Homo sapiens: one gene and its partners. The protein of the gene in region 2 interacts with the protein of the main gene of each other region in a pairwise test. Each region holds a gene or a part of one and is shown on either strand. Other genes may lie near its edges. The genes, in order: NSDHL, RHBDD1, PLEKHB2 and GYPC.

The links.
Region 1: the proteins of RHBDD1 (region 2) and NSDHL interact in binary tests that used the Homo sapiens proteins (3 or more experiments, as listed by UniProt).
Region 3: the proteins of RHBDD1 (region 2) and PLEKHB2 interact in binary tests that used the Homo sapiens proteins (3 or more experiments, as listed by UniProt).
Region 4: the proteins of RHBDD1 (region 2) and GYPC interact in binary tests that used the Homo sapiens proteins (3 or more experiments, as listed by UniProt).

Annotation. Positions count from the first base shown.
Region 1 is NC_000023.11:152,861,946-152,869,062, reverse strand, and holds part of NSDHL (sterol-4-alpha-carboxylate 3-dehydrogenase, decarboxylating), read right to left. Parts: intron 6,468-7,117; coding exon 6,339-6,467; intron 3,245-6,338; coding exon 3,102-3,244; intron 1,493-3,101; coding exon 1,390-1,492; intron 280-1,389; coding exon 1-279. UniProt on the Homo sapiens protein: Catalyzes the NAD(P)(+)-dependent oxidative decarboxylation of the C4 methyl groups of 4-alpha-carboxysterols in post-squalene cholesterol biosynthesis. Also plays a role in the regulation of the endocytic trafficking of EGFR.
Region 2 is NC_000002.12:226,831,229-226,839,134, forward strand, and holds the start of RHBDD1 (rhomboid-related protein 4), read left to right. Parts: upstream 1-4,825; 5' UTR 4,826-4,859; exon of another isoform or gene 4,860-6,844; 5' UTR 6,845-6,926; intron 6,927-7,906. UniProt on the Homo sapiens protein: Intramembrane-cleaving serine protease that cleaves single transmembrane or multi-pass membrane proteins in the hydrophobic plane of the membrane, luminal loops and juxtamembrane regions.
Region 3 is NC_000002.12:131,143,312-131,150,428, forward strand, and holds the end of PLEKHB2 (pleckstrin homology domain-containing family B member 2), read left to right. Parts: intron 1-1,096; coding exon of another isoform or gene 1,097-1,138; intron 1,139-3,325; coding exon 3,326-3,462; 3' UTR 3,463-6,534; downstream 6,535-7,117. UniProt on the Homo sapiens protein: Involved in retrograde transport of recycling endosomes.
Region 4 is NC_000002.12:126,687,137-126,694,253, forward strand, and holds part of GYPC (glycophorin-C), read left to right. Parts: intron 1-3,118; coding exon 3,119-3,175; intron 3,176-6,727; coding exon 6,728-6,811; intron 6,812-7,117. UniProt on the Homo sapiens protein: This protein is a minor sialoglycoprotein in human erythrocyte membranes. The blood group Gerbich antigens and receptors for Plasmodium falciparum merozoites are most likely located within the extracellular domain.

The DNA of each region.
Region 1 (7,117 bases), on a different chromosome or scaffold from region 2:
ATCCATGGTCACTAGTGGCTGGTAGCCCATGGCCTTTTTGGCTCTCTCGCAGCTGTAGTAGTGGAATGTGCCAGCCAGTGCGACCCGCATGGGTGTGAAGGTGGGCTGCAGCTGGATGACAGGACTGATCACCATCACCAGCAGGGATAGCAGGAGGGCCAGGTAGTAGGCCACCCAGTAGGGGATGTGGTACTTGGGGGCCTCATAATTGAGGCCTGTCAGGATGCGAGACAGGAATGTCCAGAAAGGGATGGGCTCATCATTGGTGATGTGAAATGCCTGGCGGGAGAACAAGAACAAGAAGTTAGAAACACCACCCCCACCTGCCCAAAGTTGAAGCATCTATTAAGCCCGTGCAGATCGCATTCTCACTGCCTAATTGCTGCAGCTTTCCACGTGGCCTGCCCTCAATTGCACAACTGCTAAGGCATAGAAAGGGCAGACAATGAAAGTTTCATCTATGGGCCAGGATTTTAAATGAAGCATAGATTGCACTTGGAAAGGCACATTTGTTAATTTGATAATTGTTAATCATCATAAAACTCATCTACATATCTTTGGATGCAATGAATTCCTCATATTACATTTCTTGACGGTGTTCTGCTTGTTTTAAATCAAAAGCCACACCCGGGCCAGGCGCGGTGGCTCACGCCTGTCACCCCAGCACTTTGGGACGCAGAGGCGGGCAGATCACCTGAGGTCAGGAGACCAGCCTGGCCAACATGGTGAAACCCCGTCTCTACTAAAAGTACAAAAAATTAGCTGAGCGTGGTGGCATGTGCCTGTAGTCCCAGCTACTCGGGAGGCTCAGGCATGAGAATCGCTTGAACCAGTGAGACGGAGGTTGCAGTGAACCGAGATCACGCCACTGCACTCCAGCCAGGGTGACAGAGTGAGACTGTCTCAAAAAAAAAAAAAGAAAAAAAAAATGCCACACCCACCCTATTCCCAACTTATTTGAAGGTTATCAGTGGGGAAACGGCAGAGGTTCAGGAGAATAAAAGAGGACCAAACAGCAAGGGAGGGAGAGACCTGAGGAATGAGTGGGAGAAAGGGTGAGGAGCAAGCACCCTGCCCAATCTACGTGGGCTCCTGCCACAAGGAGCCATGCCAACAGGTGGGCAGCCAGGTCAGGGGACCATAGATGACCGTGACCTGAATGTCTGTTCAATCCCAGCTCGTCAGCTCTCCAAATTTGGCTGCCCAAGTGATGTGACGCTGCAGTGACACCACATGCTCTATCAGAGGGGCTTGATCTTGGCACAGGGGGTCCTAAGGCAGATCCTCCATGATACAGGATCACAGGAGCAACTTGCCAGCAAATCCAATGGCAAGGAGAAGAAACCCGCAGAAAGGCACCTGTGCAGGGACCGGTGCAGCAGGCCTTACCTTCCCACCCAGTGTCGAGTCTCGGGAGAGCTGCTCTGCCGCCAGGATGTGTCCATGGACCACGTTCTCCACAAAGGTGAAGTCCACCAAGTTCTTCCCATTTCTGCAGGTGCACAAGGGATGATGGAATACGTGCTGGGAGCCCCTGCACGAAGGCCAGGGCCACTCCCAAGTCTTGGCATTTGAGAGACTGTGACCTACAGAATGGCTGCCACCTCACTTGGCAAGGCCGGCCCAGGCACTCATGGATGCCTGTACTGGTTAAAGATGTACACTGGGCCGGGACTCCTGGGTCTTCAGGGTTAGTGGAATCTGAAAGCTGGGGGACCTGCCCACCCATTCCAGCATGGCCAACACTGGTGCTGTCTCTCCTGTCCCGATTTGGGTAGCAGCTTTTCAGCCCCTTCCCAGGAGACACGGGGCCAACGCCTTGCTCTGGTCCTCCGTTTATTGACCAGTCTCCCTGTAATCCTTCAAGGTGACAAGTCAGGGTAGCAGTGAGGCTGAGTGAGAAACAGGAAGGCAAGGCAGAGGGAAAAAGGAAGGAAGAGAGAGAGGAGAAAAGGAGGAAATGAAGGAAGAGAAAGCCTATTTGGGAGAGAGGCACACTGTTGTCCCCTGTGGAGGCCCCTCCACCTGCACTTAACCCGAGGAGAAAAGTAATGCCCCCGCCTGCCTTCCCAGATGCAAGGACAGTCAAGCCCTGGCCTTTGACCCGGGGCCCATTGCTTTCCCTCTGAGTCACGGTTTCTTCAATTTCCAAACAGGGTCACAAATACCTTCCCAGCCTACCTGAGAGGGTACACTGGATTGAACAGTATCCTCCCAAAGCTTCTGTCCACTTGGGCCTTGTGAATGTGACCTTATTTGGAAATAGGGGCTCGGCAGATGCAATTAGTTAAGCTGAGCTCATACTGGGGTAGGGTGGGCTTTAAATCCAGGGAATGATGTCCTTATAAGAGGGAAATTTGGACACAGAAAGCAAGGAACACAGCCATGTGAAAGGGACGCAGAGGCAGGAGTGATGCCTCTCCAAGCACAGAATGCTAAGGATGGCTGGAAGCCAGCAGAAGCTAGGGCAGAGGCCTGGAACAGACGCTCCCTGCGAACCTCCAGAAGACACTAGCCCTGCCAACATCTTAACTGAGGACTTCTGGCCTCCCAAAATGTGACAGAATCCATTTGTTGTTTTAAGCACTTACTTTGTGGCAGGTTGTTATGGCAACTACAAGAAATGAATACAGAGGACAGCGGACAAGGTCACTGCTATCGCCTGAATCTTTGCATCCCCGCAACATTCATATGTTGAAACTTAACCTCCAGTGCAATGGTACTGTGAAGAGGGACCTTTAGGGGGTGATTAGGTCATGGGGGCTCTGCCCTCGGGAATGGGATTAGTGTCCTCATAAAAGAGGCCCAAGGGAGCCTGTTTGCCCCTTCCACCATGTGAGGACATGGTGAAAAGGTGCCACTCATGAGGAACAGGGCCTCAATGGACACCCAGTCTGGGAACGCCTTGATCTGGACTTCCCAGCCTCCAAGCTCTCTGTTGTTTGTTACCCAGTCTTAGGTATTTTGTTACAGCAGCCTGCATGGACCAAGACAGTCACATAAGAAAAGAGCTACAATGCCATGTGGCTCCTGCCAAGTGCTCTCTGAATGCGAGCATGGACCAGGAAGGACTAGGGAAGAGCCGCTGTGGGCTGACTCACCCAATCACGAACTTCATCTTGCCGTTCCTGGCTGCCTCGATGAGGATGGGTACCAACTGCGGGTCCCTTGGGCCGAAAATGCCATGAGGGCGGATGGCTGTGGTTAAGAAATTCTTCTCAGGATCGTTGGCGCCCAGAACTGCCTGGAGGAGAGTGGGAGAAGGGGCACGTCCATTGCAAATTCCTAGGCCCAAGCCAAGAGAGTGCCTCGCTGGGTGAGAAGCACCACTCGTGGGGGACAGACAGATGACACACTCTGCTGGCATGTGGCCACTGAGCAGTGGTCTGCCTTGAGCTGACAACCTACATCAGTGGCTGGTATAATTCTGGGCTACCTCTCTACCCCACCCACCCTCACACCAAAATCTGAAAATGCAGGACAGACAGCTGGGCAAAAACTGGTAAGATCAAATCAGAAGGCCCTGGTTTGCGTTCAAAGGCTAAAATCCACCAACACTGCCAGAAGACATGCCTCGGCAGCAGTTTGTGGAAAACGTCCAAAGGTTCTGGCAAACAAGTTAGCCGTGAGCCTCCAGTGACTTGAACTGCATGTGCCGCCCACGTTTCCACCAGGCCGGGTCTGTTCCAGGCAATTCTGAGTATCACCTCCGAGGGGAGGGCTCTGAGAAACCCAAGTGGGCCCAGAAGAGGGTCAGAGAAGGTGAAGGGTCTGAAGACCATGCCTGGGGAGAAACAGGCCAGCAGCTGGGGGGCAAAGGAGGCCGAGACATGTAAAGTCCTCAGAGCAGTGCCTGGTCCAGAGCCAGTGCTCCTGTTGCCACCGCAAGGAAAGGGTGACTTCTGTGTGACTTCATGGACAAACTAGAACTCAAGAGTCTAAAGCACAGTGAAATGGGTTTCGCCTCAAAAGTAACAAAACTTTCCAAAGGATTTGTTTTATCGTGGGTAAAAGTGGTGATCATAAAGGTACCTACCCTGACGGGGCTGCATGCGAATTACACGAGATGGCCCATGTGAGTTGCTTCAGTGCGTGTCTGTATGCTTGGTAAGTACGGTTCCTGCTGTCATGTCACCTCGGGTTTCTTCTACTCTATGGTAGCAAAGTGCTGGTCTATGTTTTGGCCCCAGTGATCTTAAGCAACTCAACAATGGAAAAGCTGCCTCTCAACAGATTCCCAGAGCTGGCCCTCCTCTTCCCGCCAGGACTCTGGTCCCCACAGCGATGGAGGAAATGACTAAATAAACCCTCAAATGGCTTCCACCAAGGCTCATCTCTACTACTAAAGGGAAGAGAGGTGAAGGAGTCCTAGCTCCCCATCACATTTGGTTTATGATCAGTAGGAAGGTTATAAAGCCAACAGTGGATGTCAACCTCGGCTGAAAGGAGGCTTCCGGTGAGTTACTGCTGGAGTCATCTGCAGGCTTTGCTTATTTCCAGTTGAGAACCCAAAAGTTGATATAAGCGAGACACTGATGGTCTGGGCCAAGGCCATCATTTGAAGCTCCTGAGCCTAGATGGGCTCAGCTCTGGTGGCAATCAGTATCAGGCATATTGGGTTGAGAATACACAGGGTCTCCATGGTGACTGAACTGCCTGCAAGGCGCAGGGAGGCTTTAGTACTCCTTGGGCCAAGTTCGAGCACATGAGTGCTCCAAGGAGCAAGACAGCATAGTCTGGAGCCAGGACTGTGGCTTGCCAAAGTTCAAGCCTCCACCCCTGGTCTGGGTGGCCCTTGTGTCTCCCTGTGGACCAGTTCTGCCAGGACTTTCTGAGCTGAAGCAACAGCAGACAGGCTGGGCATGGTGGCTCACGCCTGTAATCCCAGCACTTTGAGAGGCCAAGGCGGGCAGATCATGAGGTCAGGAGTTCGAGACCATCCGACCAACACGGTGAAACCCCGTCTCTACTAAAAATACAAAAATTAGCCGGGCATGGTGGCACGCGCCTGTAATCCCAGCTACTCAGGAGGCTGAGGCAGGAGAATCGCTTGAACCTGGGAGGTGGAGGTTGCAGTGAGCCGAGATCGTGCCACTGCACTCCAGCCTGGGCAACAGAGTGAGAATCCATCTCAAAAAAGAAAAAAAAAAAAAATACGGCAAACAGCCAGGAGGCAGCTGGCTCTCAGGTAGCCAGGTCAGTGTTCAGCTCCAGTACAGCATGTACCGGCTTTGCGAGAAAACCTCAGTGGGTGTGATACACTGCACACACCTGGGAGGGGTATACTCACAGCTACCCAGCTAAGACGAGCTATCCCAGGCTCAGGAGCACTCCTGGCCTGCAGCTTAGGATGGCCTCAGGGTGACAATCCCCATCTGCAGCTAGCAGTTGTCAGGGGCCCCACAGCCCCAGCAGCCTGAAGGCTTGGTAGCGACCGTGGCTGAATCCAACCATACTAAAATCAGGTGCCCTTTGATGAAGCTGTTTTGCCAAGTGGAAAAGTACTTTTTCCTTAAAATAAAGCAAGATCCTTCCGTTGTTTGTTTTTCTAAGTAAGGGAGGGGGTGAGAGTGCCACTAGGAAGGTGCCTCCAGCCTGATTCCTGTCTGCACGCTTGCAACTGCTGTAAATTCCCATAGCAGGCGAGGAAGCTCCCATGGCATTGAGGGTGGGCTGTAAGCTCTGTAGACAGACTGCCTGGGGTCAGCCACCTCCTAGCTGCACAGTTTTAGAAAGGTTCTGAGCCTCTCTGTGCATCTGTGCACCACAGTCTTCATCTATAATCTGGTGATGATGCGATAATTGTGACCTTTAAACAAGGAAAATACTCCTGGAAAACACTCAGAACAGTGTCTGGCCACATAAAGCTGTTCTCATAGTAACTTTTTTTTTTTTGGGAGACAGCGTCTCTCTCTCTCTATCCCCCAGGCTGGAGTGCAATGGCACAATCTCGGCTCACTGCAACCTCCGCCTCCCAGGTTCAAGCAATTCTCATACCTCAGCCTCCCAAGTGGCTAGGATTACAGGCGCCTGCCACCATGCTGGGCTAATTTTTGTATTTTTAGTAGAGATGGGGTTTCGCCATGTTGGCCAGGCTGGTCTCGAACTCCTGACCTCAGGTGATCCACCCACCTCGGCCTCCCAAAGTGCTGGGATTATAAGCGTGAGCCACCGTGCCCGGCCTCTCACAGTATTTTTAAATTTAATTTCACCCACAAATTTTACATCTCAAATCAGGTACGTAGGCCTCAGAATACAAACTTCATAAGTTCATAAACATTTTTCTTAGGATTCTAAACCCTTCAGTCTGCTCACTCAACCAGTTCCAAGGTACATACCCTCTCCTGTAAGATCTTAGTCTCTGTGTAGTAGTCAATGGGTTTCATGGCATAGGGAAGGTCTTCAGTTCCATTCTTGATATCGACGCCCTCAAAGATGACACTGGCACTGCTGGTTAAAATGAGTTTCTGACAGAGGAAGGTCAGAAAAAATAAAAGTCACAAATTATCACAATTCAAACAGTGCATGATCCTGTATGAAAGAGAATCAGGGGCATCCCTTTGTTGCCCTCGCATTCGAGGCACTGAAGAAATTATTTGCTGCAATGCCTTTGCTTTTCATGCCTTCTTAAAATAATCCAAAGATCACCATCTTTTGCAGCTATGTGGATTCCAGACACACTATGTATTACATTCTAACCAAGAATCAAGAGATCTTGGTTTCAAAACAAGGGATAACACATTTTTTCTATCCCATCACACCTGAGAGATAGAATAGACTTGCATTCATGGTATCTCACTATGACAGCGATTCTCTGTTGTAAGTGAAGGGCAGCCCGCAAACTTCTAGGAAGATGTCTGAAAAAGATCACTGGCTATTCTGATAGTGACCTGGCCATGTGAACACACATAGGAATACACACACCACACGACCTCTTAAGAAATGCTATTCTAAAGGAAGATATTCTCTTATGAGGGTCCCCAGCGTCCAGCCTGCTGGTTAAGAGAAGCTCATCCAACACTGAACACCATTAGCATGAATCATATCGTTCCCATTCTTATTCAACATTGTATGAGAAGCTCTAGCCAGAGTGGTAGGGTAAGATAAACACGAATTT
Region 2 (7,906 bases):
TCCATCTAGACCTGGGCTTCTCTTTGTGGGAAGATTTTCTTTGTGGAAAGTATTAAATTTCCGTACTTGTTACATGTCTGTTATGGGTTGAACTGTGTCATCCAAAAAGATGTGTTGAAGCCCTAACCCCCAGTACCTTAGAATACGTTATTTCAAAAGAGGGTCATTGCAGATGTAATTCATTAAGATGAGGTCACACTGGAGTAGGCTGGGCACTTCAGCCTCTAGGAGACAGGCACGTGAGGGAACAGCACATGTGGAGATGCAGGCAGAGACTGAAGTGCTGCAGTTGTAAAACCAAGGAGCACCAAGAAAGGCCAAGGATTGCTGAAAACACCAGCAGTGGGAAAGAGACAAGAATTCTCTCTTCCAGGTTTCAGAGGGAGCAGAGCCCTGCCAACACTTTGATCGAGCTTCATGTCTCTAGAACATGAGATAATAAATTTCTGTTGTCTTAAGCCACCTAGTTTATAATACTTTTTTTTTTTTTTACAACCACCATAGAAAATAAAGTCTTTTTGGATTTTCTATTGAGCCAGTTTTGGCAATTTGTGTCTGTCTAGGAATTTGTCCAATTCATCTGCATTGTCTAATTTATTGGCACAACGTTATTTACAGTCTCTTACAATCCTTTTAATTTGGGTTGGTAGTGATGTACCTGTTTTGATTCCTAATTTTGGTCTTTTTAATTTTTTGGCCAGTTTAATGTTGGCTCATTAATTTTACTGGTTTTTTTTTTTTTCTAAAAAACAAACTTTTGATTTTCATTTTCTCTATTTTTGTTACTTATTTTATTGATTTGCAATATGATCATTATTTCCTCCCTTTGCTAAAGGTTTACGTTCCTCCTCTTTTTCTAGTTTTCAAGGTGGAAGTGTAGATTTGAGACTCTTTTTCTTGGTGTTTAAAGGACTAAATACCCTTTTGATCACTGTTTTAGCTGCAGTGCATGACTTCAATATGTTTTCACTTTCATTCATTTCAAAATACTTTCTAATTTCCTTTAGTACTTCTTCCTTGGCCCATGAGTAATCTAATTTCCAAACATCTGGGGATTTTCCAAATTTCTTTCTATTGTCAATCCCTAATTTAATTCCACTGTAACTGGAGAATGTACTTTGTATGATCCCAATTCTTTTAAATTTACTGAGACTTATTTATGGTCTAACATAAGGCTATCCTGGAGAGTATACTTTTTAAAAAGAACATAAATTCAGCTGTCATTAAGTACAGTGGTCTGTACATGTTGGTTAGGTTGAGAGTCTTGTTCAAGCCTTCTATATACTTAGTGATTTTCTGCCTGGTTGTTCTACACATTATTGTGAGTAGGATACTGAAATATCAAACTACTGTTGTTTGTATATTTCTCTGTTCAATTCAATCATTTTTGCTTCATGAATTTAGGGCTCTGTTACTGGGTGCATATACATTTATAACTGTTATATCTTCTCAATGTATTGACCCTCTTATCAGTATGGAATTTCTGTCTCTAAAAATATTTCTTGTCAGCCAGACGCGCTGGCCTGTAATCCCATTTGGGAGGCCGAGACAGGTGGATCACATCAGGTCAGGAGTTTGAGATCAGCCTGGCTGACATGGTGAAACCCCATCTCTACTAAAAAAATACAAAAAATTAGCCAGGCATGGTGGCGGGCACCTGTAATCCCAGCTACTTGGGAAGCTGAGGCAGGAGAATTGCTTGAACCCGGGAGGCAGAGGTTGCAGTGAGCCAAGATTGTGCCATTGCACTTCAAAAAAAAGAAAAAAGAAAAAGAAATTTCTTTCTTAAAGTCTGTTTCATCTGATATTAGTATAGCCACTACAAATCTCTTATGGTTAGTGTCTGCATAGTCTACTGTTAAGTATTGTTGGTATTATTATCACTATGGTACATGAACCAATTTCTCATTTTTACAGTTCTTAAATTGAGATTTGAATTATTTAATTTGCAAGCTTTTCCATAACTAGAAAGCTATAAATTATCTTATCAGTTTTACACATATTTTGGTACAGTTTTGGGTAAAACAGTAATCAATACTTGGTTCATTAAAAGCAATTAGAAACCCAAACAAGCTTCTCCCTTAAAAAGATAATCCAGTTGTGTATTTGTTGCACGCTGTCGTTGCATGGTATTGTTGCCTGACGTCCTCTCACTTTCAGGCTGGGTTCTGAAATCTGAGAATGACACTTGTCTACCTTCCTGCCAGTCCTGGATTTGTGAACTGTACAAGGGTTGTTACCACCACTCCTCCGCTTATGTGCAAGCACCACATCTTAAAAACACTCATTTAAGTCGGGTGGCTTAATCATAGGTATTGCTGCTTTTCCTGTAAACCTTAGATAAAAGTTAAAATTTATTTTATACCATTCAATGTCTCACATATTATGCACAATGTGCATAGTGCTGCCTCGTCTCATGATTAAGATATATACTTTCCAGCATTTAGAAATCATTGTTTTATATGGTAATGTAGTGATTACGTATATTTTAAGTTAAAGAATTTCTTCTGGCACTGATTCTTTGGTATTTTTAAGCCTTGCTCAGTGAAAGGATGCTGCTGCTGATTGCTTCATATGTTCATATTTAAGATATACAATTATTATCCAAGTGATATTTGTCAATTGAAATGGGATATGAGCATGTTACAACATGCTCATTTCAACAGAAACTTTTAAAAAACCCAGTCTGCTCAACAAATCACGTAGGACAAAAGAGAAGGTCATTTTTTAAAAGGTAGATATTTTTTTCTATCTGTTAAATGTCTTTTACCCCTTAAATGTCTATGAAAATTTTCACTGATATTTGAAACAGAACATAATTACCTAAGAATATTCTTAATCCGTATATATTTCTTACATTTTAACGAAATTATTGAATTGAGACTTCTTGATTTGTGGCTCCCTTAAAATCACCTCTGCATTTGATGTATTATACGGACAAGAAAATGATGCAATTATAGAAAGATGTAGAGAGTGATGGAGAATAGAAGATAAGATTAATATTAATTGAATGGATTCATATGATTGTGGTTCAGAAGGATAAATGAGGACTTCTTCCTTTTGAGAAATTACACATTTCCCCCTCTAGGGAAATACAGAAAATACCTCTATAGGCAATTTACTTTTCCCCGCATTCATTTGACTTTTCATGTCCAGAAATGCAGTTTCTCATTGTCAGTTGAGCTTTTGGAGGAGTATATTGTTTTTCTAGGAAAGAGGTAACTTATGAGTCTTAATGAACACGTACAATTTGCTAAGAATCTTCTTTGTCACTTGAAAGTCATATGTACACCCACACCTATGCATGAGCCACATTTTCACTTAAATTTCAAACTCCAAAATAAATATTTCTATGAAGAGTTTTAATACACAATGGCAAAAGATAAACTCTTCTGGTTTAGGCAGTTTTTGTTTTAGCAGACTATCTAAACACAGCTGCTACAACTTCCAATAAACAAAGAGTAACACTAAACCACCTGTATTCGGATACTCGGATTCCTTCTTGGAAAAAGAGCATCTTTACCCTAGCTATCAGAAAATTCCATACCAAATAGTAAGATTTTTTTTTTTTGAGATAGAGTCATGCTCTGTCGCCCAGGCTGGAGTGCATGGACGCGATCTCACTGCAACCTCTGCCTCCCGGGTTCAAGGATTCCCCTGCCTCAGCCTCCCGAGTAGCCGGGATTACAGGCGCCCGCAACCATGCCTGGCTAATTTTTGTATTTTTAGTAGAGACAGGGTTTCGCCATGTTGGCCAGGCTGGTTTTGAATTCCTGACCTCCGGTGATCCGCCCGCCTTAGCCTCCCAAAGTGCTGGGATTACAGGCGTGGGCCACCGCGCCAGGCCTGTTGTTGTTTTTTAAATAGAGACAAGGTCTCACTATGTTGTCCAGGCTGGTCTCAAACTCCTGAGCTCAAGCGATCCTCCTGCCTCGACCTCCCAAAGTGCGGGGATTACAGGCGTGAGTTACCGCGCCCGGCTGTAAGATAGTTTTTTCATATCCTATTAAATATATATAGCATTGCAACATTTAACTTAGCCTAACTCCTACAGCTAAACATAAAACTTGCTCCCGAGTAGCAAACAATTAAAATGGTATCAAATTATGTATTAATCGAAATTCTATTAACTGAAATATGAAACACCTAAAGCCCTCAAAATGGGCAAACGTTGCGTGGTGCAGTCCCAGACCCAAGCTTCTGGGAGTGAAAGGTGCACCCGCGACCTTGCCTTGCTGGCTGGCTCTGGGACTCTGCGATAAGCCGCCCTCCGGTTGTCTGCGATAGCTCCTGAAGCAGGAGAGTGTCTTTCCCACCCTCCGCCTAACAGGCGGTATCTGACCCTTCCAGGCAGCAGCTCCCCAGCCTCCGGCTGCGCTGGGGCCCGGAAGGACGAAGCTTCCCGGCAGAGAACCTGGGCAGAGGCGTCCGTTGGGTAGGCGGCCGCGACCCGCTCGCTGCTTCTCCCCTAGTCTTCGGGTCCCTTGAACGCAGGTCGCTTGTTTGCCTTACGCGTAGTCAGCGGCCAGTGGCTATTTATGGCAGTAAGGAATATTATCCACATTTCACATGGAGCTTAGAGGACAGGGCGAGGGTCCACACTCTCCTTACTGCGCTCTGCCGCGGTCCTGCCCCGCTGTGCCCTCGCGGCCCCCTTAGAGCCACTGCCGGCGCACGCGGTCTGCAGACAGCAGAGCGCGGGCGCGCACAACTAAGCATGCGCCGCGGCCGAGCCGTCCGCTTTAAGGCCCTCCCCTCCCGCACCCGGCCCCAGGAACCCGGGGCGCCCCGGATCGGGAACGTGCGTGATGACGCACGTGCGCGCGAAGACGTGGGGACGCAGGCGGGTCGTAGAGAGCGTGAGTTTCCGCGTCTGTTTGGTCCGGCTGCTGTCGTTGGTTGTGAGCGGCATCTCTCGCCGTTTCCCCGGGCTGCGGGAGCTGGCGGCCGGGCTGGGGCTGCTGGGCGGAGGTCGGCGCCTCCCGGGGGGCTAGGGCGAGGGAGGCATGGCGGGGCTGGAGGCACAGCCTCCCCGTCCGGGGCAAGTCCGAGAGCGGGGAGGGCGTTTCCTGGGGTAACTCCACCTGGGGTCTTGTCGAAGTTGCCGCATCTCCGCCGGACCGCACGGGAACGACGTGCCCACACTCGGAGGAAGGGGTTGGCGCTGAGCGAGTTTAAAGGGTTCCTTTTGAAAGCAGGAAGTTTGAAGTGACGTTGCATCAGCAACAGAGCATGCAGTTTCAGGTGCTCTCGGGACAGCTTTCAGTTTCTCAGAACAAGTCTAAGCCTCACCGCAGTAATAACTTTTATTAGAGGACAAAAAATCCGCCAAAGTAAACCCTTTCTGTCCAACCCCTAAAAACCTTTGGATAAACGTTTACAAGAAACGGATCACAGCCTTATTTGTTTTTCTAAACTGAGCATAAACTCTTTTGAAGACTCAGCGTTACTGTCAAAATGAATGAGTGCCTGCCTAGTTATGATTCAATTATCGAGGTGTTTGGGTCTCTGCAGTACACTCAGTGACTCCCAGGCTTTTCTTTTTTCTCTTTGAAATTGCTTATTAGAAGGCTTTATCTAATTTCTCACAGTTGTGTGTCTTTTTGAGGTAGTTCTAATAAACTTTAAAGGCTTCTGGTTTGCTGCAGGCCTGCCGTCGCTGTGGAAAGCAAGTATTCTTTCAAAGAAGAATAGAAGTGCATTGGTTTCTAAATAATCCCAGGACGCTAGGATCAGCATCACTTGGGAACTTCTTGGAAATGCACATTTTGGGGTCTTATCCCAAACTTACTGAATCAGAAATATATTTTAACAAGCCTTCCAGTTGATACCAATGCACCTGGACGCTAAAGTTTGAGAATTAATGGCGTAGTGATAACACCCATTGTGGAATCACATATAATGGAATTTGAATTGAAGTAATTCCTAGATGGAAAAACTTGGACATGTTACCTCACAGGGCTGGAATATGAAGATGCAAGAAAAATGTTTAACACAAAACACATAGAAAACCCTCAAAGATGTTATTAAGTAACTTATTAGAACTGCATAAAATAAGTACATAGTTTGTGCTGGAAGGATTCTTCAGCGGGGTAGATATGAGCTGTAGCGCATGGATATTGGGACTGCTGCTTAGAGGGTATTTTGTTTACCTCGGGATTCTCAATTCTGTGTAGTCAAGGTTGTTGGATGCAGGATATTCAGTTAAAAGTTAAAGCAGTGCATACTAATGCTATTGTGGTTGTAGGATTTTTAAGAATAGCATTAGTATTTATGTTGAAGAGTAGTTTTTAATTCTTTGGCCTTCTGATCTCTTCAGCTTTGTTTGGAGACAGTCTCTTTCTGCCACCCAGGCTGGAGTGCAATGGTGCAATCTTGGATCACTGTAACCGCTGCCTCCAGGGTTCAAACGATTCTCCTGCCTCAGCTTCCCAGGTAGCTGGGATTACAGGCGTCTGCCACCACGCCCAGCTAATTTTTGTATTTTTAGTAGAGACGGTTTCACCACGTTTGCCAAGCTGGTCCCGAACTCCTGACCTCAGGTAATCCACCTGCCTCGTCTTCAGTTTAGTTATACCTTCTTTGACCCAGAATTTGGTAAAGACCAGAGGTAAGCACTAGTTTTAGAGTTGAGAATTATTGTAACATAGTGACTTGCAAGCGAAAGCCAAGGCTGAATATGTTTCTGTCCTTATCTTTGTTTCCCATATGTCGTACAACTCCACGGTAGCAAAGATCTCATGTCTACTCTAGATACCTCCATTTTCAGGAAGGATCACAGGAGTGCCCTCAACCTGCTGTGTTTTTTAGATGCAGTATTTTCTTACAACTTTATCTCTTTCAGGGGTCCATTGTAGGGGGAGAAAGAAATATTCAGGATTTAAAGCAGCTGCTCTAAAGGCTACATTCACTGCAATGTTGAGAAGGTCAGTGCCAAACCGTGGCCTACACATGTCGTTTTGATGAGAGCACGCTGCTCCCAAGGCTATACCATGGCTCCTGGATATTGAGAGAGTTTTCAGATAAACATAAGTCACTTTGAATGGATTATTCTGGAAATAATTTCGTTAGCTCTGCCACCAAATTGGCACTGCCCCATCATGAAATGTTTATTTTTCGAAGGCATTAAATATTTTTTTTTGTTCTCCTCATCGGAGAGGCAGATCGCTATCTGTGGTTTTAGGTCAGACAAGCCCTGCTCTGAATCTTGCCTCTGCTACTTAGTGATTGTGTACATTAGACAAATTAACATCCTCCCCACTTGAATTTCTGTAAAGTAGGAGTCATAGGATGTGCTACTTCAGGCCATTGAATTAAATGAAATAACGCATAAAACACGTCCACCTTGTTTTAGGCACAGAGGCTCAGTAAATGTTGTGTGTCGGACAAAGGGAAAAAAGGTATTTGTTGTCTCAAACCTAACTTTATGCCATTCATTTTATAATATTTTTATAAATGAGGTAATTTTATTACCTAACTGCACTGCTTTTCTTTTTAACCATAAAATGCTGAAATGGAGTCAAAGCTTTCATATTATTGTGAATGAGAAAAAACAAACACTTGAAAAAAGTTGAAACTTTAACGTGAAAAAACACCATCTTCAGTTTTATCACTGTAACAGAGCAACTTGTAGAAATTGTTTTGGATGTTTACAGCAAGGTAAACATCCAAAGGTCAGGGGATGAGTAATAAAGTATCTTCTGTTAGTTAATGGGGACAGTCAGCTAGAGAAGGGGACACTGTTACAGGAAATGAGACCTCGTTGAAGGTATGCATCAAAGGATGAGAAAATGCTGTTAGCCCTGAAATTGCTAATATTTTTTTAAAACACGAATTCTTAATAGCAAAGTGAAAAGTTTTACATTACATTTTTTAATAAGGGATAACAAAATCTCTTACATGTATT
Region 3 (7,117 bases), about 96 Mb from region 2:
GATATGATTTAAAAATGTAAACGTTTTCAAACATAAAAAATAGGGATGATGGTATAATGAACTATCATATGTCCATCACTGGCTTCAGCAGTTAACCATATCATGTCTAATCTTTTATCTCTACCTCAGCCTCCTTTCTCTACCTCTGGATTAGTTTAAGGGACATCCCAGATTTTTAATCATTTCATCTGTTAATATTACATTAAATCTGGATAGCATTTTGCCAAGTTGATCCCAGAATGGTTTACCAACTTATAATGCCACTAGCAGTTACTGATGCAGTGGTTTATCTGTGATCCCATAAAGATGGCCTGTTGTGCTCTAAAAGTTTTGATAGCTTCAGTAGGTCTCAAGTGGAATCATCGAGTTGCTTTAGTTTATATCACCTTTTATGAATAATTTTCCTTTGCACATTTTTCTGTTGGGATCCCATGGGATGGAGAGTTTTAAGCCCTAGCCTTGCCACATGAGAGCCAGCCTCTTTCTCAGCTTCCAGCCCACAGAATAGGGCTGTTGCCGCTGTTTCTTACTGTATAGAGAGCACAGATATTGCAGACGTGGTTGTTTAGGGCACTTCTGGAAATGAGTCCATCCTTGCCCTTGGCTCTCGTCAGTAGAGTAGAAGTAGCACTCTCACAGGCAGTACTCGGAATGCTTGCCGCCCACATAAGGGGCTGAGTCAGTAGGCATTATGGCCAGCCTGCCTCAGAGTGGTGACCAGGCAGCCCCCAGACTTGCTTGCTGTGGAAGGGTCAAATGGGTTTGTGGTCGATACACAGCAGCTTGTGTTGACAACCAGATGGGTGCTTTGCCACCTCCATGCCATCCTGTCTGCCAGGGTCTCACTGCCTAGAGCTAGTCCACAAGAACCCTCCTAGTCATGCACAGAGCTGGTTAAGGCTCTCTCTTCAGTGTGATTGGGACCAGTGGTTGGTCAGCCAATTGAGAAAGTACAGAGTACTGTAGACGTATTGTAAACATTGTGCTGTGATTTAACCCGCTAGTGGGTGTTCGTTCGGCTCTCCTATAATGTGGGGTTGAGGTGTTTGCTTTGAGTTGGCTCCTTTGGTTGGAGTCTTCTATTTCTGTCTTGTAGAGACCATCCTCATGACACGTCATTGCACTGCAGTTTCCAGGGGTAAGTCCAAGAGCAGACTTCTAGATTTGGGGACTATAGTCCTCCCATCCTCCCATCTTTTATAGTTTTCTTAATTCCCTGATTTGATGGTAATTTGTAAAAGTAACCTTCCTTTATTTAGTTTTTCCTGTAGTATCTTAGTTGCCATAGAAACTGTGTCTGCCTTTTTCTCATTCACATTTTGACCATTTATGTAATATTAGTTAAATTAGGCAATTATAATAAGTGTGACCTGGAAGCATCCACAGCTGACTCTGGCAAGGACTGAGCTCAATGCAGGAGCAGAGCTCAGCAGGAGCCACAAGAGAGTGGCCTGGTCCTGCAGCCAGGGGACCTCAGCATGACTTGCAGGGGCATCAGAATGTAGATTTTCCATGGGACCTTTTCATTAGGTCAGCTCACAAGTTCTATTGTGTTACATTTGGCTAGTTGGAGTTAACATTACTGAGCATTTTAAAATGTCAGGGCTGTGAAAGTAAATGCCGTAATTCCCTAGTTTTGAAATTTAAACATTGCAAAAATAATCACTTGCTTCCAGTACTGTTACCTGTACCAGATCAGCCCTTAGATTTACGATGGTTTCATTGTACTACTCTGTGCCTTTTGAGTTTTGTCATTCATCATCCTCTGTTGTATTTGAGGCATTAGTGGGTATAAATGCATACTGTAGCCAGAGTGCCTGGGTTTGTGTGCCCTTACTGTCCTTAACTGCTGTGTGCCTCAGTTTGCCCATCTGCAAAATAGGGATAAAAGTGCACTCAGTTGAGTAAGAGCATTCCAATGTATGTAGTGCTGTAAGTGGCTGGAAATGTTCACCTTTGTTACCACTGCGGGTTTCACTTCTGCTCTTCATCCACATGTGCACATCACTAGTGACTAGTTTTTTTTCTTTTCTTTTTTTGTGTGTTTGAGACAGAGTTGCACTCTGTTGCCCAGACTGGATTGCAGTGACAGGATCTCAACTCACTGCAGCCCCCGCCTCCCAGGTTCAAGCAATTTTCATGCCTCAGTATGGGATTACAGGCATGCGCCACTACCCCTGGCTAATTTTTTTTTGGTAATTTTTTAAGAGACAGGGTTTCACTGTGTTGGCCAGGCTGGTCTAAAACTTCCGGCCTCAAGTGATCCACCTGCCTCAGCCTCCCAAAGTGCTGGCATTACAGGTGTGAGCCATCAAGCCTGGCCAGCCAGCCTTTGAACCATTAAAGGAATAGAGGATCAAGGAGGAAAGTTAACGCTATTAATACCTGAGCAGTTTGAAAGCTACTTAGCTACTAGGCATTATAGCTGTGAAGCATGGAAGAGAGCAAACAGTATATTTCCAGTTGTAAATTTTAATCTTGCAAATTAAATACTAAATTTGTCTGTGGTTTGTTTTTTTGAAGTTTTCACCTCTAACATAAATATTTATTTTTTCTCTATAAAGACATGCAGTAAAAAAGAGTAGGCCGGGCCGGGCGTGGTGGCTCATGCCTGTAATCTCAGCACTTTGGGAGGCCGACGCGGGTGGATTACGAGGTCAGGAGATCGAGACCATCCTGGCTAACACGGTGAAACCCCGTCTCTACTAAAAATACAAAAAATTAGCCAGGCGTGGTGGTGGGCGCCTATAGTCCCAGTTACTCAGGAAACTGAGGTGGGAGAATAGCTTGAACCTGGGCGGTGGAAGTTGCAGTGAGCTGAGATCATGCCACTGCACTCCAGCCTGGGGACAGAGCAAGACTCCTTCTCAAAAAAAAAAAAAAGTTATATGTGCAGATTTAAGGCTTAATTTAAAAATTGGTTTGCGTGCATACTAAGAAGCTCATTTGCTTTAAGTGAGCATTTCCTTTTTGGGCTTTTGTTGGGCACTGTGTGTCTCCCATGTTCCCCATTTGTCTGCCACCCAATAAGCATGGTGTCGAGGGCTGAAGTAGAAATCAGAGGCTAGAATCTGAAAGCTTCATTAGGGTTCTGCTTTTTGCAGATTAGGGACTTTGGCCCTTAGTGAGCTGAGGATCTTGGTTTCCTCCCAGTGTGCGGTTTCAGGGATGTCGGCCACATGATGTGCCTGTTGTGGAGGAGGGCTGGGTCGCCAGTGTGACAGGAGACAGCAGATCCCTTTTGTGAAAGGAGAACTGGTACTTTGCGTGATGTTAAACTTCACAAACCGCTGCTCAGAAATCTGCTATTTTCCTTCTCTTTTAGGACTTTATGGACAGCAGCCTGCTAACCAAGTCATCATTCGAGAGCGCTATCGAGACAACGACAGCGACCTGGCACTGGGCATGCTGGCAGGAGCAGCCACGGGCATGGCCTTAGGGTCTCTATTTTGGGTCTTCTAGGGGCCTCAAGGTCTTGATGTGCATAGCTTCTGATAACCCTGTGTGCAATAATATGATTTGCAGGGCATTTCTGTTTGTGACAAAAGTTTTTAATAATAGTTTTAATCATTCCTTTGAAAGTAGTGATGTCATAATTGTACTAATCCACATAAGTACCACAGAGAAGGGTTTGAACTGTGCTATTTTGTTCAAATGTTGACTCTCCGGGGGCACTGGCTCATTCCAAGACTGTTCTTGTGCAACTCTCAGAATACCTTATTTGAGCATACCTGTTTTGAAAGGCATTTTCTTTTTAGAGTTAGGTGTAGTGCTTAAGGGTTAATTTATTTTCATGTTATGCCAGTAATATAGTGTTGTATGCCTATTGAGTGATTGTGGCAAGAAAAGCTACAGCTTCTTTGCGTTTAACTTTTTCAAACCACAGACCAGAACTGGTTGCATGTTACTTTAGGAGTTGTGGGTTGGTAAGCTCCCAGGTACTTCCCGAGGCTATGGTGTGAGAGCCCCCGTCCTGCCCTCTGGGGCTCCACAGGCCCCTGGCAAGGCCGATGGCTCAGGATGATGGGGCACAGCCCGCCTTTGAACAATCATGCTTCAGAAATCTGCCTGACCCTAGCTGCTGCTGCTGCTCACTTTATTCTTGTATGGCTTTGGTAGGCATACTTGGAGAACATATCCCACATTAGGAATTGATTTAAGCCTGAGAGTTTGAGGGCTTTAATCCTTTAAAACTTGGAGAAGCTGGCTGGGCGCGGTGGCTCACGCCTGTAATCCCAGCACTTTGAGAGACCGAGGCGGGCGGATCACGAGGTCAGGAGATCGAGACCATCCTGGCTAACACGGTGAAACCCCATCTCTACTAAAAATACAAAAAATTAGCTGGGCGTGGTGGCAGGCGCCTGTGGTCCCAGCTACTCGGGAGGCTGAGGCAGGAGAATAGTGTGAACCCAGGAGGCGGAGCTTGCAGTGAGCCAAGATAGTGCCACTGCACTTCAGCCTGGGTGACAGAGTGAGACTCTGTCTCAAAAAAAAAAAAAAAATCCTGGAGAAGCCAGAACAATATACAAACAAGTATGTGGAGGCAGATTTGCTTTATTCCAAGAGGCTGTTTGAGTGTGTGTCTGCCTAAGCCTCCTTATAGCCTATTTTTCTACTTGCTGAGAGAGTAATATTAAAGGAACAGTGAGGGAGTGGAAGGAGAGCCTTAGTTAGAGCGTTCCCATTTCTGGCCTTTGGGGGTTTGCACTGTGCGGGAGATGCTCTCTCATCACTCTGAAGGCCCATCCTGTGCAGAAGTGGGACTCTGTGGCTGTTCACTGAGCACCAGGGCAGACTGTAGCTGAGCAGACTTGGGTTATGGATGGGATATGGGGCCCAGGGACCCTCAGGACACAGGGACCGGCTCAAGGTACCACTCAGCCTGGCCAGGACCCCCAGCTTTGCTTTTGTTCTTGATCTCTTTGTGATAGAGAAGCTTAGAACATTGAATTTGGAACCCCAAAATGTGTGAGTCTTTGGAAAACCCATTCCAGCCTTTCTTCAAATGCTCTTATTTTCAGTATATGAAGTGTGTATTTGAAATATTCATATTTCTGTTATTTCTTGTTTTCAAGCTCTGAATTATTGCAGTTTTCTGTCCTGCATGCTTTCAACAGTGTGCTTTTACAGTGGCAGTTTAGCACAGCGAATGTCCCTGCCCCACACTCCATATGGTCCTGTTTTCCTGAAAATACACTCCAGGTAGCACAGACTTGTTATTTTGCCTGGCTGGTTACACACATGCTGTCTTGCTTTGCTGCTCAGCCACCTCCCTCTGAGGCCAACTTAGGCCAACCTACATAGGACTCCATCTTTAGCGAGACACCAGAGACACCTAGTGATGACCACGGGTCTGCTTTTCTCTCTGATCCTAGGGGACTTGTTGACATGGGAGTGTCTGTTTCCACATGGAAGGATGTCTGTTTATCTCTCATCTCTGAATAGATGTATGACAACTCTAGTGTCCATGGTTTAAAATGTTGCTTTGAGGATTTTCCATCCTGTATAAGAAGAATGGCTTTCTTCAGATTATAATCGTTATTAAAGCTGTATGTACACTTTACTTAAAAACTATTAACAGTTTTTCATGTTGCACTGGTGGTAATTTTGAACTTGGAATTACTGGGTGGGAATTCCAGGAACCACAGAGTATTGATTTTTGCTGCCAAAATGCTCTTGAAGCAGATGTCCCTGTGCTCCCCTGGCTGCTTCTGGCTGAAGGGGGGAGGTGTAGACTGAAGCTTGGGCACTCATGTGTGTCCCCTCCCCAGTCCCCATCCTAGTGGGGCCAGTCTCATTAGGCAGCCATAGATAAGCCTGGAACTTGGCTGTCATTAGTGACTTGATCCTGGTATGAAATGCATACTGGGTATAAGGTTGCTCAGGTATTTTATTTCCTTGGCCACAACTCCCATAGATGCCAATGTTTTGATAGCCTCAGTTTCTCAACGATGTCTTTTGTTTACAGTGCTACACTTAGTGTGAGTCAAGAAGTGCTTGAGTTACAAGAAACTTCTTATTCAGGTTTGAGTAAGCATTTTACTTCCATGTGTACTTTTAAATAATCCATACCTTGAAGAAGTTGGCCAATGATATTATATACATGCTGATCTGATTGTTCTTTTCATTCCTTGAGTCAACTTCAGGGTCTTGGATACTAAAGAGAAGGAGAACTGTGGTTAATGTTTTGGATCATCATTTGTGAACAAGGCCAGACTTTGCCCATTTTAGGCTATCCAGGACTTAAGGTAGCCATCTGGATCATAAGAAGGTCCTGCAGTTGAGACAAAATGACCCAAGTGTATTTTCCACAAGTTTTGATCCTGTGTAATATTTCTTTTTCCTTCCCTAGTGTATGTAGATACAAGGCATGGAATGCAGTTCCACTTTCTCCCCAGAGTTGATCTTTTTGTGATTGCTTTCCCGTCTCTAGTAGTATTCTGTTGTGTCTAGAGAACTGATTTTTTCCTACATACGCAAATTGTACATTTGTAAGTGAAAATGTCAATACATTAAAGCATTAACCTTAAAGCATGTTTCATTGTGACTTCTGTTGTCTTTAAAAAATTACTTTGTAGTAACATACTCTCAGCTTTTTCTGCTGTCCTGGATCATAAGAATGCCATTTATTGAGGACCTACCAAATGCTAGTATATTGTCACATTAGAGACAACTCACTGAATTCTTAGTGACTCTGTAAGGGAGGTATTATCCAAGTTCCACTGGAGGGACCGAGGCTCAGAAGTTAAATAATTTACTCAGGAGCGTGCAGGTAGTAGGTCTCCACATCTGATGTTAAAACGCCTTGTTGTTCCCTGTGCCGTGTGCATATGAGAATTTGATTTCCACAAACAGCAGTGGCCCGTGCAGTCACACTCTTGGGATGGCTGTGAGAAAACGGACACTATTTTTCCCAACCAGATCCCTCTGGCAGTGTGTGTCCAATAACTTCTCCAGCATCTTTGGATATATGACTTTTTTGTTTTATTTATTTATTTATTTATTTATTTATTTATTTAGAGACGGAGTCTCACTCTGTTGCCCATGCTGGAGTGCAGTGGCGTCATCTCGGCTCATTGCAAGCTCTGCCTCCTGGGTTCACGCCATTCTTCTGCCT
Region 4 (7,117 bases), about 100 Mb from region 2:
GGCAAGCAGACACTGGGGAGAAAGCTGAGAAGTGGGGAGAGCTGCCTTAGATGCTGAGCTCTCTGCCTGGAATGCTTATAGGCTTTGTGCAGCAAACTCCTATTTGCCCTTAAAGGACTAATCCTGATGTCACCGCTTCTGGAAGCCCTCTTTACACCAGCACTTCCCAGCCTACAGCATGAATCAGAATCTACTATAGTAATTACTGGGTCCCAGTCCTAGTGTTTTTCTTCAGTAGGTCTGGGCTGGGGCCTGAGAATTTCTATTTCTAACAGGCTCCCAGAGGATGCTGTGTATCCAGAGACTATGCTTTGAGAATTGCTGTCTCACAGCATCCACACCTTCCCAGACAGCCTTGAGCTTCCTCTCTATGCTGATTCTGATCTATCAATATAGGGCAGCTCTGGTTGGGCTGAAATGTCACTCCCCTGGAGTCTGTCACATTGTGAAACATGTGTAAATTCAGCTCCACACACTTGGTGGGGTGGGGGGCATGGAGAGAGTAGTTCCAGCTGAGGGAACTTTCCTGCCCACCACGCTCCTCAGAGGGCATGAGCTTGGAGGGAGCCCACATTGGGAGGCCCAGCTGGCAATCCCAATGGTCTCCCAATGAGGCCCCGAAGCTCTCAGGTCCTACCTCCCCTCCCAGCCTGGCTGCCCTGCTGGAAGTGTGTGTAGTCTCCCAGTATACAGATTTGAGTACAAGGTCCCTAACCAGAAGCCAAGAAATGCACCCCAAGTTGTTCAAGCCAAATATCTCACCTGGAAACCAGCTTACCAAGGCTCTACACTTTGCAGTGCCCTGTAAGGCTAAACACACTGACTCAAGGCTGCCAGGGCTTCAAATGATTGACTTCTGACTCTCAAGGTACAAGCCGGGGAAAATAACACTTTTCTGGGACGCAGCTGCCAAATCTGGAAAATGGGGCTAATAATAACTCCTATCGAATGGAAATGTTGCAAGGTCTGAGTTAAAATACATTAAATGTTGAGAGCAGCACCTGGCATTTAGTATGAAATTATTAACTGTTTTAAAGGAAGGGAAAATAACAGTCCCTTCTAACCCTGATTGTGTTGGACAAACTGTCATAAGAAATGCTGGTCTTTACCTGGAAAATTTCTAAGGGCAGTTCTGGGTATTTGAGCTTCTATAACCATCCATGCCTACTTAAGCAAGATGTTATTCTTTCTTTCCGAACTTTGAGGTGCATAGTGGTTAGAAAAGTCTAGAACTCCACCACTAAATCCATTCATTTATACATGCATGCATTTACTCATGCATTCAGTGAATATTTATTGAGTACCTACTATGAGCTAGATACTAAATTGGAGGCTGCACTTGTTCACTGTAATAAAGTCTAGCACCCACTTGAACTTGCTATGGCTCCTGCTTCAGGTCTTGCTACTGAGAAGCACTGTGAATGCTGGATCCTCTACCCTGCCTGGTTCCTGGTTCCCAAGGTGCTGACTCCAGACCCAGAGTTCACTGGGTCTCTTGGCGGCCTCAGTGCCTTGTATTATCTTCTTCCCCACCTCCAAGCTCCTTGGTGGCCCCAGACACCACTAGCTTGGCCCACCTGCTTCCTGCTGTGGACCCCTAGCTGGGAGTCTGTTTTCCCCTCACCCACTATGACTCCTGACTCCAGCAGGCAGTTACTTATAAGAAAGAGGCATCTGGCAGCTGCACTGGGGAGAATGACCTCATAGCACTATAATTAAAGTGATCATCTGAGTGGAAATGACTATTATGAAGCATCCTTCTCTGTTTTATTATGTAGAGCCATTGTAATGGGAATACGGGATTTCCTATGTTAATGCTGATATTTCTGTGATCCAATAAATCCTTCTTCACAATCATCTCCCAGAGGAAAGAAGGCATTCTGTGCAGCAGCTCTAGGAAACATCAGGTCCCCAATGTCCTAGACATCCTACCCTCTTTGGCCAGGCCATTAAGCTGTGAAAAAACACACTCAGTAACTTGGATAATGTCATAGAGTGGTCCTTCCCACAGCAGAGTCAATGTAAAGACCTATGGGAGGGCTTCAGGAATGACTCCTCAGACAGGAGCCCTGGGAAGGGCTTCTCCAAGAGAGAAAGTGCACTCCAGAGGCAAGAGCACTGGCCAAGTCCTGACCTGATACCGGATGAGCTGTGTGATCATGGGCACATCACGTCTCTGAGCCTTGGTGTTCTTCCTGTGAGATGGGCCAATAACACCAGGCACCTCATAGGATGGATGTGAAGACTGCATGATAGAGTAGATAGAAGGCAGTTAAAGCAACACCTGGTGCTATGGTTTGGATGTGGTTTGACCCTGCAAAAGCTCATGTTGAAATTTGGTTCCCAAGGTGGCAGTGATGGGAGGTGGGACCTAGTGGGGGATAGTTGAGTCACAGGGGCAGATCCCTCATGCATACATTAATACCCCCTTGAGGGAGGGAGGGAGTTCTAGCTGTCGTGAGACTGGATTAGTCACTGGAGAGCAGGTTGTTATAAAAGCAAATTCAGCTTTCTAAACTCTCTTGCTTTCTATATCACCTTGTGGTCTCTTTGCGAATGTCAGATCCCCTTCTGCTTTTTGCCATGAGTGGGAGCAGTATGAGGCCCTCACCAGATGCAGCTGCCCAATTTGGACTTCCCAGCCACTAGAACTGTGAGCCAAACAAACCTCTCTTCTTTACAAATTACCCAAGTATTCAGCTATAGCAACTCAAATTGGACTGAGACACCTGGTGTGAGCATCAGACACTCCACAAACATTCTTTCTTAAACACAACAAGAGTCCCTGCCTTCATACACAGCACAGATATCTGTTGAGCATCTACCACATGCAGGCACCACTCTCAGTGGAGGCATACTGCAGAGAACTTAAATGGGCCTGGAGTGACCTGGTGGTTCAGGTTCAAACAGTTCCATCCCAGTCAGTGACCAAGCAGAACCTGGTTCCTGGTCTGTGCACCCCTGCTAGGAGTCGGTGGGTGCACCACACTGTCTCTGTCCACTTGAACCCATTCTCAGAGCTGCTCACACCTGAGCAAAGGATGCAGCTTGGGCCAAGGTGCTGCTAGGCATGGAGAGTCTTCCTCTCTGACCTCAGATTCTTGTCCTCTGTTCACAGAGCCTGATCCGGGGATGGCCTCTGCCTCCACCACAATGCATACTACCACCATTGCAGGTGAGTTCTCATCACAGAGCCTCACCATAATGGAAACTGCCGTGACTTCAGATGAGCTCTCATCACAGAGCCCTTTAAGCAGCCAGGGTTGGGGGACTTGGTGAAAACATCCAGGGGAGAACTGACCTAAGGACTTGGACAGGGGTGGCTGTGGCCATTTTTTCTCTCCCTCAGAGGTGGTTTTGAATGTGGAATGGAGGAGTCTACCCCTGGGTAAATAAATATACATAGGTATGTCATATGTATCTGTATTTATATTTATTGGCCTTTCTCAGGGCTGTTGACTCACAGGAACTCAGGAGCTGGAGAGGCAGCAGTTTTGGTGAGGGAGGTTGAGGGTGGAGGTGAGATGAGGGTAGACTGACCAGGCTACTTAGACTTCTCCACCGTCTCCCTCATCCCACATTATTTTCTTCCCTGGGTCCATGACCCCCAACCCTCCATCCTCAAGGAAACTTGAGCCTGCCTTTGCCTTGCTTTGAACCCTGAGCAACGGGCTCCCCATGGGTCATGGCTGTGACTGCAAACTGTGTTTGAAGAACAACCAAGTTTGGGAGGTGCTGTGTGCTCTGCGACCTTCTTTGAGATCCACACTTCTCAGCAGCTTATTAATAACTCAGGAAACATCTACAATTTGAAAAGAAAGAAAAAGCAGCAGAAGCAAGCAATCAAAGACACCTGTTGGACTCTGTGTAACCTGGCATTCTCCAACTCATTGCACCACTGAGCTTTTATTCTTCCTAGGTGATATTATTAACATTATGCAGATACAAGTGTTCCCCTGAAGGCAGTAGGAAGTTTAGGAAATTGTTCTATAAAGGTGGGACTTGGGAGCAGTTTCAGACTTTCCATATTCTTCAGCAGTCCCTCCCCAAGGCCTCCAAATAAACCTGCATTCTAAGAAAAGACAGAGGCTTGCTCTGCAGCTTCAAAGTAAATGCCCAAACTCAAAACACCCCCACCCCATGAGACTGCTGCCCCCTCACTCTCAAGGTCCTGAGTGATCTGACCCCTCCTGAGCAGCCTTACACTGTACTTCCCCACCCCTCTGGAGTCCCAGCAGAAGTGAGGGGTGACTGCCCCTCGCACAGCCAACACCTTGGCATTCTCTGCGTTACCCTCTCCCACTTCAGTCCTTTGTGTGGCCAAGTCCTGCTCCTCCTGCAGACTCACCCCAGTCCTCAATCGCCAGGAGGGAATGGGAGCAGGGTAGGCTGAGGAGCAGTCATCGGGCCATTGAAAAACACAAACCACACAACCTGCCCCAAGCACAGTTAATAGCCTCATTTTTCCCCCTGTATAGTGTACATACAGCAACCAGCTCTGCCCTGTTTTCTGGGACTTCCCTGGTTTTAGAATGAATAATCTCCAAGCAGTGTTCTTGCAACTGTTGCAAGGACCATGTTAAATTGCTTTAAATGTTGAGACCTGCACCTGGCACCTAGTAAGCGATTGTTAGTTGTTTTAAAGGAAGAGGAAATAACAGTCTCTTCTAACGCTGATTGTGTTGGACAAACTGTCCTAATAAATGCTGTCTTCACCTGGAAAATTTCTGAGGGCAGTTCTGGGTATTTGAGCTTCTATAACCATCCATGCCTACTTAAGCAAGGTGTTATTCTTTCTTTCTGAACTTTGAGGTGCTTGTTGATTGGAAAAGTCTAGAACCCCACCACTAAATCCATTCATTTATATATGCATGCATTTACTCATGCATTCAGTGAATATTTATTGAGTACCTACTATGTGCTAGATACTAAACTGGAGGCTGCACTTGTTCACTCTATATAATAAAGTCTAGCACCCACTTGAACTTGCTACGGCCCTTGCTTCAGGTCTTGCTACTGAGAAACACCGTGAATGCTGGATCCTATACCCTGCCTGGTTCCTGGCTCCCGAGACCCAGATCCTGAGCCAGTGTTCACTGGGTCCCTGGGCTGCCTCAGTGCCTTGTATTATCTTCTTCCCCACCTCCAAGCTCCTTGGTGGCCCCAGACACCCCTAGCTTGGCCCATCTGTGTCCTGCTGTGGACCCCTAGCTGGGAGTCTGTTTTCCCCTCACCCATTATGACTCCTGACTCCAGCAGGCAGTTACTTATAAGAAAGAGGCATCTGGCAGCTGCACTGGGGAGAATGACCTCATAGCACTATAATTAAAGTGATTATCTGAGTGGAAATGACTATTATGAAGCATCCTTCTCTGTTTTATTATGTAGAGCCATTGTAATGGGAACGTGGGATTTCCTATGTTAACACTGATATTTCTGTGATCCAATAAATCCTTCTTCACAATCATCTCCCAGAGGAGAGAAGGCATTCTGTGCAGCAGCTCTAGGAAACATCCCGGTCCCCAATGTCCTAGACATCCTACCCTCTTTGGCCAGGTCATTAAGCTGTGAAAAAACACACTCAGTAACTTGGATAGTGTCATAGAGTGGTCCTTCCCACAGCAGAGTCAATGTAAAGACCTATGGGAGGGCTTCAGGAATGACTCCTCAGACAGGAGCCCTGGGAAGGGCTTCTCCAAGAGAGAAAGTGCACTCCAGAGGCAAGAGCACTGGCCAAGTCCTGACCTGATATCGGATGAGCTGTGTGATCAAGGGCACATCACGTCTCTGAACCTTGGTGTTCTTCCTGTGAGATGGGCCATTAACACCAGGCACCTCATAGGATGGATGTGAAGACTGCATGATAGAGTAGATAGAAGGCAGTTAAAGCAACACCTGGTGCTATGGTTTGGATGTGGTTTGACCCTGCAAAAGCTCATGTTGAAATCTGATTCCCAAGGTGGCAGTGATGGGAGGTGGGACCTAGTGGGAGATATTTGAGTCACAGGGGCAGATCCCTCATGCATACATTAATACCCCCTTGAGGGAGGGAGGGAGTTCTAGCTGTCGTGAGACTGGATTAGTCACTGGAGAGCAGGTTGTTATAAAAGCAAATTCAGCTTTCTAAACTCTCTTGCTTTCTATATCACCTTGTGGTCTCTTTGCGAATGTCAGATCCCCTTCTGCTTTTTGCCATGAGTGGGAGTAGTATGAGGCCCTCACCAGATGCAGCTGCCCAATTTGGACTTCCCAGCCACTAGAACTGTGAGCCAAATAAACCTCTCTTCTTTATAAATTACCCAAGTATTCAGCTATAGCAACACAAAATGGACTGAGACACCTGGTGTGAGCATCAGACACTCCACAAACATTCTTTCTTAAACACAACAAGAGTCCCTGCCTTCATACACAGCACAGATATCTGTTGAGCATCTACCACGTGCAGCACCACTCTCAGTGCAGGCATTAGGCAGATAACTCAAATGGGCCTGGAGTGACCTGGTGGTTCAGGTTCAAACAGTTCCATCCCAGTCAGTGACCAAGCAGAACCTGGTTCCTGGTCTGTGCATCCCTGCTAGGAGCAGTGGGTGCGCCGCACTGCTCCTTTCCACTTGGACCCATTCTCAGAGCTGCTCACACCTGAGCAAAGGATGCAGCTTGGGCCAAGGTGCTGCTAGGCATGGAGAATCTTCCTCTCTGACCTCAGATTCTTGTCCTCTGTTCACAGAGCCTGATCCAGGGATGTCTGGATGGCCGGATGGCAGAATGGAGACCTCCACCCCCACCATAATGGACATTGTCGTCATTGCAGGTGAGCTCTCATCACAGAGCCCTTCAAGCAGCCAGGGTGGGGGGCCTTGGTGAAAACATCCAGGGGAGAACTGACCTAAGGACTTGGGCAGTGGTGGCTGTGGCCATTTTTTCTCTCCCTCAGAGGTGGTTTTGAATGTGGAATGGAGGAGTCTAGCCCTGGGTAAATATATATATACATGCATACATCGTACGTATCTATGTATGTATTTATTGGCCTTTCTCAGGGCTTTTGACTCACAGGAACTCAGGAGCTGGAGAGGCAGCAGTTTTGGTGAAGGAGGTTGAGGGTGGAGGTGAGATGAGG